Regions from separate parts of the Homo sapiens genome. Here region 1 is linked to region 2. The links come from fine-mapping of genetic effects on gene expression. A gene starts in region 2. The other region holds a variant in brackets. All regions are shown on one strand. Distances are from middle to middle.

Region 1 (5,371 bases), 36 kb before region 2:
CTGAGCCTGGCAGTGTGGTGTGGATGCTGACTAAGAGTGGGATTGAGGTGTCTGGTTGTGCTGTGGTTGTGTGGCTTTGTGGAAGTGTATGTGATCAGCCAGCTGGGACTGGAGTGCCCCGGGGCATGGAGAGGATAGGGCGAGGAGGCTGCTGACTTTGCTGCTTGCTGGGCTGGACTCTGGCCACCCTAAGGCGCTTAGGCTGCTGATAATAGCCCTGAGGGATTAGGGGCTTTGGCAGGCGGGGTCTGGGTTCCCCCTGCTAGGGCCTCAAACACTGCTGAGGTTTTCAGGGAAACAGTCCTCTATCAGGAGTACTCCCAGGAGCTCACACCTTCCCCTACATAAAGAGCCCAGAGGTGGACAGATCCTGTAAGAGTCCAGAGGAGACTACATGCTGGCTCTTCACTTCCTTCCCCAACAGTCCTAGACACCGAGTGCAGTTCAGGGGAAGGTTTTGTCCACCTGCTGTCCCCCTAGGTTTCTCTTTGTCTAGACAGGGTCCCAGCTGTCGAATGGCAAGAGTGGTCAGAGGGGCCGAATGGAGGGACCTGTCCTGAATGACCCCAACCTCATCTGCGTCTCTCTGGACCCCACACTCAGAGTAACTGGGAGAGACTGAGCCTGTTCTTACCTCTAAGAATTACCAGTGTGACCAGGGGACTGGGGCTTCCATGGGGTTCCTTCAGCACCCTTGATTCAGGGCTCCTCCCCCAGGACGAGTCCGGCTGCAGAAGGGGGCCTCTCTCCAGATTGAGGGTCTCCGGGTGGAAGACCAGGGCTGGTACGAGTGCCGCGTGTTCTTCCTGGACCAGCACATCCCTGAAGACGATTTTGCTAACGGCTCCTGGGTGCATCTGACAGTCAATTGTATGAAGCTGGGGGGCAGGTGGTGGAGAAGGACGGGGAGGAGGAGGATGGGGATCTCTGGCTGGTGGGAGAAAGGGGAAGAGGGAGTTCTATTTCCATCCCACAAACAGCTCTGATGCCCCACCCTTCCTGAGAGCCCTTGTTTGCTCACTTAGTAGTTGCATCTCACCCCTCCCCCACACTCCTGCCCTTTTCAGTTCTTCAAATATAAATTCAATCAGCCTTCTAGGCTCGGTGTCAGGAACTCCCTCTTTCTCTTCCCTCCTGCTTCCCTGGCCAGGGAAGTGGGTGGGAGAGAGGGGCTCTTGGGCCCTGAGTGAAACACAGCTCACATATATATAGCACCTTGTGTTTTCAAAATACCTTTTCACCCAAGCCCTTATTATTTATCTCTCACTCCTAAGTAGGAAGGAGGTCATAATCATTCCCATTGCATAGGTGAGGCTGAGTCATGCCACTGATTAGTGGCAGAGCAGAGTCTAGGACCCAGGCCTCCTCACTCCCAGAACAGTGCTCCTCCTGAGGGGGCTTGGCTCTCCCCCAGGCTCTGGACATCCAACCTGGGTTCAGCCCCAGGCCAGTGTGTGGGGGTGGGTTGACAGAATCCTCATTTGGCCTGGGTGCAGTAGACAGGGTGGCCCTGGGCTGAGGACTCCTATGAGGCAGGGCTGGTGGGTGGGCAGCAGGCTGGAGCCCTGAGTGGTCTCCCTGGCCCTTGGACACTGCTTTTTGGGCTGACAGCCCCACTGGGGCCCCTGATGCCTGTCTCCCTTGCAGCACCCCCTCAATTCCAGGAGACACCTCCTGCTGTGTTGGAAGTGCAGGAACTGGAGCCTGTGACCCTGCGTTGTGTGGCCCGTGGCAGCCCCCTGCCTCATGTGACGTGGAAGCTCCGAGGAAAGGACCTTGGCCAGGGCCAGGGCCAGGTGCAAGTGAGTCCTGGGGGTGGACAGAGTGAGCCATATAGAGTGTGAAGGGAAGGTGGGGGCCTGGCAGTGGGGCCAGAGGACAGAGGAGGCAAAGGCCAGGCTGGAGGATGGGCCAGAAGAAGGGCTTGGCATTGTTTGCCCCGAGCCTGGGGTGCTGCCTCCCTCTGCTGGCCAAACTCGGAAGTGCAGGATCTGAGGCTGGCAGGGGAAAGGACTCTTCCTCACCCACTCCTTCCCTAGGTGCAGAACGGGACGCTGCGGATCCGCCGGGTAGAGCGAGGCAGCTCTGGGGTCTACACCTGCCAAGCCTCCAGCACTGAGGGCAGCGCCACCCACGCCACCCAGCTGCTAGTGCTAGGTGCTCTCTGGCGGGAGGGCTGGGGTCCAGGGTTACCTATGCAAGGGGGCTGTGACCTGTGGCTGAATTGGTTCACAGCAAGATAGGAGGGAGATTTGTGCCTGAGGGCAGGGCCCGTGGAAGCTAAGGGGGTTCCCAATGCAGGCTGTTGCTCTGAAACCAGCACCTTAATTTTAAAAGGCTCAGTAAGCAGACAAAGCGATCTTAGTGCCCAGTAGTGTGTTATAGTGGAAAGGACATGGGTGCTTGTGTTAGGCTGTGAGCCAGTTAACTCCTTGAGTCCCAGTTTCTTCATCTTTATAAAGAGACTCATCTCTACCTCTCAGGTGTGTTACAAGAATTTACTTAGGTGCAGCTGAGCCCAGTCACTGGCACATGGTAATTCCTGGCCAAGATCCTTCCTTTAGAAGGGAAACTGAGAAGCAGAAGGCCTGGACTGTGCCTTCATAGAGCCTATTATCTTTGTGGGGAAGTGAGACTAATTGGGGAAACAGGGAAGTGTTGCTGTCCGTGGTACTGTAAGAAAGGCAGTGCCGGGTAATGGTTAAAGGTGTCGTCTGTGGCATCAGGAAGCCTAATATGAATGTTGCCTCTCCTGCTGTCCTTGGGCAATCACCTCACAATCTCTCTGCCTCTGAGCCTTCACTTCTTCATCTAGAAAATGGAGACAATTCCCACCACAAAGCTTTTGGTGAGGATTAAACGAGGTCGTGCAGGTAAAGTGCTTAGCACTCAGTGTCCCGCATGCAGTCAGTGCTCTGTTGTGTCAGCTCGCATCATGACCTCTTCTTACTGACTGCTCATGCGGTACCGGCCCAGAGAGGGGAAGGAGTAGTGGAACTGT[A/G]GTAGCCAGAGGTGCTTTTGCAGGAGGTATGTGGCGCGGCCAGGCCCTTGGGAGGGGCATTCCAGACCGGGGGTGCAGGGAGCAAAGGCATGGAGATGGGGGACAGCCAGCTGCCCATACTGACCTGAAAGAGTTCATGAGGGCTGACATATGGAAAGATGGCTGGCCACGTAGGGAGGGTTTGGATCGCAGGGGTCCACAGGGCTGGGTTTGAGCTTAGTGTAGTAGGAGCCAGGTGCTGTTGCAGGTTCCTGAGCAGAAGTGTTCTGTGGCTCAAGGGGCTGTTTCTGTATGAATGGCCATTAGAGTGGCAGCTGCAGGGGAGCCTGGAGTCAGGGGCTGCTGCAGCATCTTGAGGTGAGGTATTGGGCACCTGGGTTAGGGCCAGAGACAGAGAAGTAATTCAAGAGGTGACAAGCAGGGATACAAATGGTAAATGAGCAGAGTTAAACTGACTCCCCCAAACACACACACCATTCCTAGGCAGTGGAACTGCATGAATGGAGTTGCTCTTGATGGAACAGAGAGAATTTGGAAAGAAGAATGGGTCTCAGGGAGAGGATGAATTCTTGTTACATACAGGGGGAAGCTTCTGCTTCCACTCCCCAAAGCCCTGTAACAACGAGCCCTAAGATTCCAGAGAGCAGAGCTGGGAAGAGTTGTAGAGGTGACCTCAGGGTTCTGGGAAGACTGTGGGCTGAGGCCACCTTCCTCCCCTTGTGCATCCCACAGGACCCCCAGTCATCGTGGTGCCCCCCAAGAACAGCACAGTCAATGCCTCCCAGGATGTTTCATTGGCCTGCCATGCTGAGGCATACCCTGCTAACCTCACCTACAGCTGGTTCCAGGACAACATCAATGTCTTCCACATTAGGTGGGGTCACCCTCATTAGGAAGGTGGAGGTGGGGAATTCACAAACAGTCTCTGAAGAGCCGCTTGGCTGGGCAAGGCCTGGACCCCTCCTCACACATGCCACATTGCAGCCGCCTGCAGCCCCGGGTGCGGATCCTGGTGGACGGGAGCCTGCGGCTGCTGGCCACCCAGCCTGATGATGCCGGCTGCTACACCTGTGTGCCCAGCAATGGCCTCCTGCATCCACCCTCAGCCTCTGCCTACCTCACTGTGCTCTGTAAGCCTGACCCCAGCTTCTCCCTCAGCCTGCTCCCTTCCCCTGGGCCAGGCCAAGCCCCTCTCCCCCAACTTGCCACTACTTTCCCCCAGACCCAGCCCAGGTGACAGCTATGCCTCCTGAGACACCCCTGCCCATAGGCATGCCGGGGGTGATCCGCTGCCCGGTTCGTGCCAACCCCCCACTGCTCTTTGTCAGCTGGACCAAGGATGGAAAGGCCCTGCAGCTGGACAAGGTACAGGCTTGGGGCAGGGGAAGGAGGGTCTTAGCTTGGCGTTATTCTGCTCAGGACAGCAGGGTGGAGTTAGCTCGGTTTAATTCAGTTCAGTGACTGGGGACACACATCTTTTGTGAATTTAATTTGTGTTATAAGACATGTTGCATAGGAAACTACTTAAAACCCCTGAGGAAAAATTTCCATGGTTTAAAGTGGTGGTTTTGTGTCTTCTTTGGGGAAAGAAGAGAGATGATCTCTGGGGAAAATGATGGCAAAGAGTCAAGAAGGAGAACTGAAGTTTCTTTCGTGTGATGACTGGGAAATTGTGTGTCCCGGGGGAACACACACTTCTTACCAGGTGCTGTGTGGGGTAGTGGGTTGAGGGCAGGGGCAAGGAGGCATCCATCCTTAAAGTGGGCACCATCTGGGCAGAGGACAGCAACACTGTCTGGAAGGCCAGGGATGGAGCTCGTGCCTTCCTCTTAGGGTGGTTGAGGATAGACCAGCAACAGATTCTGGGACTTTGGTGATGGGCCTCAAAGAGGACACAGTCATTCCCTTGCAGAAACCAGGGTCAAGAGGCAGGAAGTAGTATAGTACGTTTATGGAATCATGGATCGTCCAATTGGGTGGGAGCCGGAGTGCCTGCAGGGACATGAATGGTGCAGAGAAAGCTGGAAAGACAGGTTAGCATCAAAAGGAAGAACTGGATGCCAAGTTACTATTGCCTCATTCCAAGGCAATTGGGATCTTTTGTCTGCAGAGACTATAAATTTTTGAGGCCTAGTATTGCATCTTTTCATCATAGTGTACCTGGGGCTTCTACAACAATAGTACTCAGTATATCTTTGTTGAATATTTAAGAAAAAAGTCTACAGGCAGTTGGAGCCACTGGAATTTGTTGAGCATTGGTGTGATAGGATCAGAGCTGTGATCAGGGGTTGAGCTTGCCCAGTGGAATGTAGCGGGAGATACTGGACATAGGAAGAGGGGTTCTGAAGCTGCTGAAATGGCCCAGGTGAG
Region 2 (5,371 bases):
GAAACTGCTGCAGCCACCTCTGCTTTCAGCAAGTGCTACCCTCATCAGTTAGCAGCCATTAACACTGAGGCAAGACCCTCCACCAGCAGAAAGATGATGACTCTCTCTGAAGACTCAGATGATTGTTAGCACTTTTTAGCAACAAAGTATATTTAAATTAAGGTATGCACATTTTTTTAGACATAATGCCATTGCACACCTGATAGACTACAGTATAGTGCAAATGTAACTTTCCTATGCACTGGGAAACCAAATAATTTGTGTTGCTCACATTGTATTGTGATATTAGTTTTATTGCAGTGCTCTGAAGCCTAATCTGCAGTATCTCCAAGGTATGCCTGTAGACACATGGCCAAGGGTTCTTCTCTGAGCCTTGACATGTGCTTACGTAAATGAGAGGCCTGAAGCTTAAGCATTGTTAGCTTTGAGATAAATTTTTATTGTATTTTATTTATTTTATTTTTCAAGACAGGGTCTCACTCTTGTCACCCAGGCTGGGTGCATTGGCACGATCATGGCTCAGAGCAGCCTCAACCTCCGAGGCTCAAGTGACCCTCCTAGTGCAGCCTCCCAAGTAGCTGGGACCACTGGCATGTACCACTATGCCTGGCTAATTTTTGATTTTTTGTAGAGATGGGATCTCCCTATGTTGCCCAGGCTGGTCTCAAACTCCTGGATGTAAGCAATCCTCCTGCCTTGGGCTCCCAAAGTACTGGGATTACAGGCATGTAATTGCCTGCTGGGAGGCAAGTCCCTTACACTGCACTCTGTCATTCCCTCCTTCCTGCCATAACTTTTTTAATTTTTCTTTGAGACAGAGTCTTGCATTGTTGCCTGGGCTGGAGTGATCTTGGCTCACTGCAATCTCCCCCTCCTGGCTTCAAGTGATTCTCCTGCCTGAGCCTCCTGAGTAGCTGGGATTACAGGTGCCTGCCACCACCCCCGGCTAATTTTTTGTATTTTTAGTAGAGACGGGGTTTCACTATGTCGGCCAGGCTGGTCTCGAACTCCTGACCTCGTGATCTGCCCACCTTGGCCTCCCAAAGTGCTGGGATTACAGGCATGAGCCACCGCGCCCAGCCCTTTCTGCCTCAACTTTGCACCTTTTCTTCAGAGAGTTACCCTGGGCTGAGAAAAGAATAGATTTTCAATTTGGACAGTTTTTTCTTGGCTTGTTTCCTCTTTGGTTACACGGATAGTAACTATGTCATGCAGATGTGCCTGGGAGAATGGGGTGAATACAGGAAGCACCTTATTCACAGTGGGCCGGTTACTTGTCTTCCCTTCTTTCTGAGCTGCAGGGAACGGGGTTCTAATGCCAAGGCTTAGTAAGGAAGGTTCCCACGAACAAAACAGCCCCTTCTCTCAGTCCCAAGCCTCCCAGGGACTGTGCTCCTCCTCTTCAGGCCTTCCCTTCTCCCTCTGATTAAGCCTTCAACACTTGGTGGGACTGGGCAGGGGACACAATTTTGTACTCTTGATCCCAAAGGAGATAAAGGCTGGGAAATCTAGGGAAGGAATGTGAAGCCTGTTGGAGTAAGTCCTTTTAAAAGCAGCAAGAAGTGACCTTGTCTCCCTCTTTCCATTCCCCCGGGGCTTGTGAATAGCCTTCAGTGCCCAAGTTGGAGTAAGAGCTTCAGAAAGACTGGCTGTGAGGGTTTGGAGAGAGGTTTGAGAAAGCAGCTCAGAGACTCACAGAGTCACACCAAGAGCTTAGCTAATCAGCTAATCAGCACTGGAGGAAGACAAATGTCCTTGGTCTGGTGGGACAGCTTCGTGAGGCTTGGAGCATGCAGCCTACCAAAGTGAGCTCAGTGCCAGCCCTGCAAGTTGGGAGGTAGAGAGGCCAAACCAAATTGGAAAAAATGACAAAACCCCTATGTACTTTCTAGAACAATACATACCAGCTAGGAAGTGTTAAAAGACAAGCTCCCCAAAGTCAGTTCCTTAGCTTTTGACTTATTCTAATGTAGGGCCTCCATTTTTAATAAACTCTCCCAGGTGATTCTTAGCTGCAGATTTGAGGCCCGCAATTTAAGAAACTGCTCTTGAGACTGCATAGACATCCTCAGGGCTGGAAGTTCTTTGTTGACCCGACCAGATTCTCTCCTGCTGTGGAACTGGTTTGTCCTGATCCTGCTGGCTTCTCTGCAGACTACACTCATCAGGGGTTGGCTTGGCGCCTCCTGGGCAATGGGGCAAGAGTAATCATAGCAACCTAGGTGAAGTCCCAGGGGAAAACTGTGACCCTGGGCCAGGCTCCTGGGGCCGCTGACAGTTAGAACCCCCTCGGCCCATAGTAAGTTCTTTAGGTTCGGGTTCTGACCGAAAAGTTTGGCCAAAGCCAAAGTGGAGAGCAGGGCACGCCAGGGCGGGTCAATCCTTCAGAGCCGCGGTTGGGCTGGAGCGTGGAGCTGCAACGGTTGGAGCGACGGGCTCCGGTTCCTAAGCCACCAGCACAAGGCAACTGCCCGCTGGAGGTGGGAGGGGCGGGGCCGGGGGCGGGGCCTGAGCCGAAGAACGCGGGCTAGTGGTTGCCAAGGTAACGCGTCAACACTAGGGCCTTGGCGGCGCCGAGGCGGCAGCAGAAGTCCGGAGTCAGGGCGTGTGGCTGAGGAGATGGTGAGGGAGAACCTCAGATGGGCCCCTTGTGTCCTGAATTGGGTGGGGGCTCTGAGTGGGGAAAGTGGGGGCCTAGGGGAGGTCACAGTTGGGTCTAGGGGTCAGGAGGGCCCAGGAGTAAGGAGAACACCTCTAGAAGAAGCAAGGGAGATCCTGAGGTGGGTTCAAAAGAGGAATTAGGGATAGCATCGATAACGATTGGAAATGTGGAGCGCGCTGAGCGGAGGAGTTGGGGAGAAAGGGATGCCCCAACCCTCTCCCCGTTGCCATTACAGCGGGGCCTCTGTGGACCAAAGATTGTGGATGTGGTGTGGGAAAAAGCACTGGTGGGCCGGGCGCGGTGGCTTACGCCTGTAATCCCAGCACTTTGGGAGGCAGAGGCGGGCGGATCATGAGGTCAGGAGATCGAGACCATCCTGGCTAACACAGTGAAACCCCGCCTCTACTAAAAATACAAAAAATTAGCCGGGCGTGGTGGCGGGCGCCTGTAGTCCCAGCTACTCGGGAGGCTGAGGCAGGAGAATGGCGTGAACCCGGGAGGCGGAGCTTGCAGTGAGCCGAGATCGCGCCACTGCACTCCAGCCTGGGCGACACAGCGAGACTCCGTCTCAAAAAAAAAAAAAAAAAAAAAAAGCACTGGTGAGGAGGCCAGATAATGGGTCGTGGTACCTGTTTTGCCACTAACTAGCAAGGTGACTGTGGGTAAGTCATCTAATGTGCCCGAGCCTCAGGTTTTTCTTCTGTTAGCAGGGCTTTGTATCCCTCAGTAGTTAGTCAATAAATATTTGGCAGTGAATGAATGAATGAATAAATGAGTGAGTGAGTGAGGAGGGTCTCAGGTTTGCAAGGCCCGGGAGAGAGATTGGGACAGGACTGGCAGCCTGGGGTTTGCTGGGATGGGGAGGGCTGTCAGGGTACTGAGGGCTGAGAAGGCCAGCAAAGCCTGGGAGGAACCATGAAGGGGATGCCTGGGCTTGAGTGTGTTGGTCCCAGAGGGGAGGGGAAGGGCAGATGATAAGTGTTGGAGTCTTGGGTTATTGGAACTGACCTAGAATGTCTGGGGCACAACAGGTGGCAAAGGTTGCTACTTGGATGTACTTGTGGACAGACTTCAGGCCCAGGGGCTGCATTGCTTTTCTGGGGCTCAGTGGACCTCAGAAGAATTTTGTTAATTATTAAATAAGTCTCCAACAAAGAGCAGTTCCTGACTTTCGAGGACTCCCTGCAGTGTTGTAATTGGGGTGGGGGAGCGTCCCCTTTCACTTATGTATTCTATTTGATTCAGTGTCCCATCTTCTCTCAGCACCTTACAAACACAGTGGCGTATGTATGTATGTGAACACCTACTGTCATGCCTGGTGTCTAAGGGCATATGGTAAATGTTAGTTCCCCTTTTGTCCTCTTTTAAAAATTTCCTATTTCCAAGCTCTCATAGGGCATAAGTTGCACCTGGGCAAGACCTGTGGGCTTCAGAGCACCCAGATCAGGGATTCCCCATCCAGGAGCCACTCAGGGCAGGGGTTTGACTCACTCACTGAGCCCCTCTGTAATTCCTGGGACAGGACTGGGCATATAGACACCTTTGAGAAGCAGTGGGTCTAAGTTAGTGATCTCTGGCAGGCCAGCTGTGTGTGTTCGTGTACGTATAGTGCTACTCACTAGGTTTGGAGAATATTTAAAGGCATGAGAAGAGATAGTAGTGGTGGTGAGGGTCACAATTAGGCAGACTTCCAGAACTCTTACAAAAATAATGATTAAAATCCTGCAGAAGGAGAGATGGGGACCTCAGTACTGACTAGGATGTTATCTTCTGGTGGCATCCTACAGATGGCCAACTTGGTCCCAATTGAAGAAAGAGGATAATTGCGTGGATCACTCAGAGTAAAAGGCAAGGGGTCTCGTGCATGGGAATCTCCCTTTCTTGGTAACCAAAGTCTACAGAAAGGGAAGTAGAACCAGGCCAAGAGTTTGAAGCCTGAATTTGCCAGCCTGCGGAGACTGTGCAAAAGAAGAACTAGATCTCAGAATGGGTAAGACATCTAGGAAAAGACATATCTTTCCTGAACATGTCAACCTGTTTAGTTGACAGGTGTTGAAGTTACATCAGGGAAACTTCACACTGACCTATTCTAGCCCCATTCCAGCTTTGTCTTGCTGAATTTGAGTGAAACATTCTGGATCCCAGAATATATAATGCTATGGTTTTTTTGTTTGTTTGTTTGTTTGTTTTCTTTTTTAGGTCTGTACTCTCTTGCTTTCAGAGTTCGGGCACCAGGCCCATTGCTATGCTTTGTTTTCAAATAAAAATTGTTTTATTGTTTTTTTTTTCTGGTCATAAAATTGGTATCTACTCATTGCAGGAAATTATTCAATAAAGAAACATCTTAAGATGGTAAAGGTTCCTGACATACTGTTAAACATTTTTTTGAACATGCTTTCAGTAATACATTCTGGGCACATACCTGCCATACAAACATCTTTACAAGAGTACTTCTACATTTCTTTTTCTTTTTGAGATGGAGTCTTGCTCTGTCGCCTAGGCTGGAGTGCAGTGGCGTGATCTCAGCTCACTGCAACCTCCACCTCCCAGGTTCAAGCGATTCTCCTGCCTCAGCCTCCTGAGTAGCTGGGACTACAGGCGTGTGCCACCATGCCCAGCTAATTTTTGTATTTTTTGTAGAGACGAGTTTCACCATGTTGGACAGGCTGGTCTCAAATTCCTGACCTCAGGTGATCCACCCACTTTGGC

What was found.
Region 1: its variant is fine-mapped to the expression of CFAP45 in whole blood (TOPMed, PIP above 0.99).

The regions. Positions count from the first base shown.
Region 1 is chr1:159,933,185-159,938,555 of GRCh38, reverse strand. It overlaps IGSF9 (immunoglobulin superfamily member 9), which reads left to right. Exons shown (of 21, transcript NM_001135050.2): 4 at 718-870; 5 at 1,648-1,802; 6 at 2,040-2,157; 7 at 3,734-3,875; 8 at 3,986-4,131; 9 at 4,224-4,366. Among named protein-coding and RNA genes, the nearest start is that of IGSF9, 9.7 kb to the left of the region's middle. RefSeq lists an enhancer at 3,078-3,578. The variant A/G (reference allele first, on the strand shown) is at 3,002.
Region 2 is chr1:159,897,347-159,902,717 of GRCh38, reverse strand. CFAP45 (cilia and flagella associated protein 45) reads left to right here and starts at 2,553. Exons shown (of 12, transcript NM_012337.3): 1 at 2,553-2,622. The coding sequence starts at 2,620. It overlaps MIR4259 (microRNA 4259), which reads left to right and starts at 2,639; the gene lies at 2,639-2,739. It overlaps LOC124904435 (a long non-coding RNA gene), which reads right to left and starts at 2,468. Exons shown (of 3, transcript XR_007066679.1): 1 at 1,905-2,468.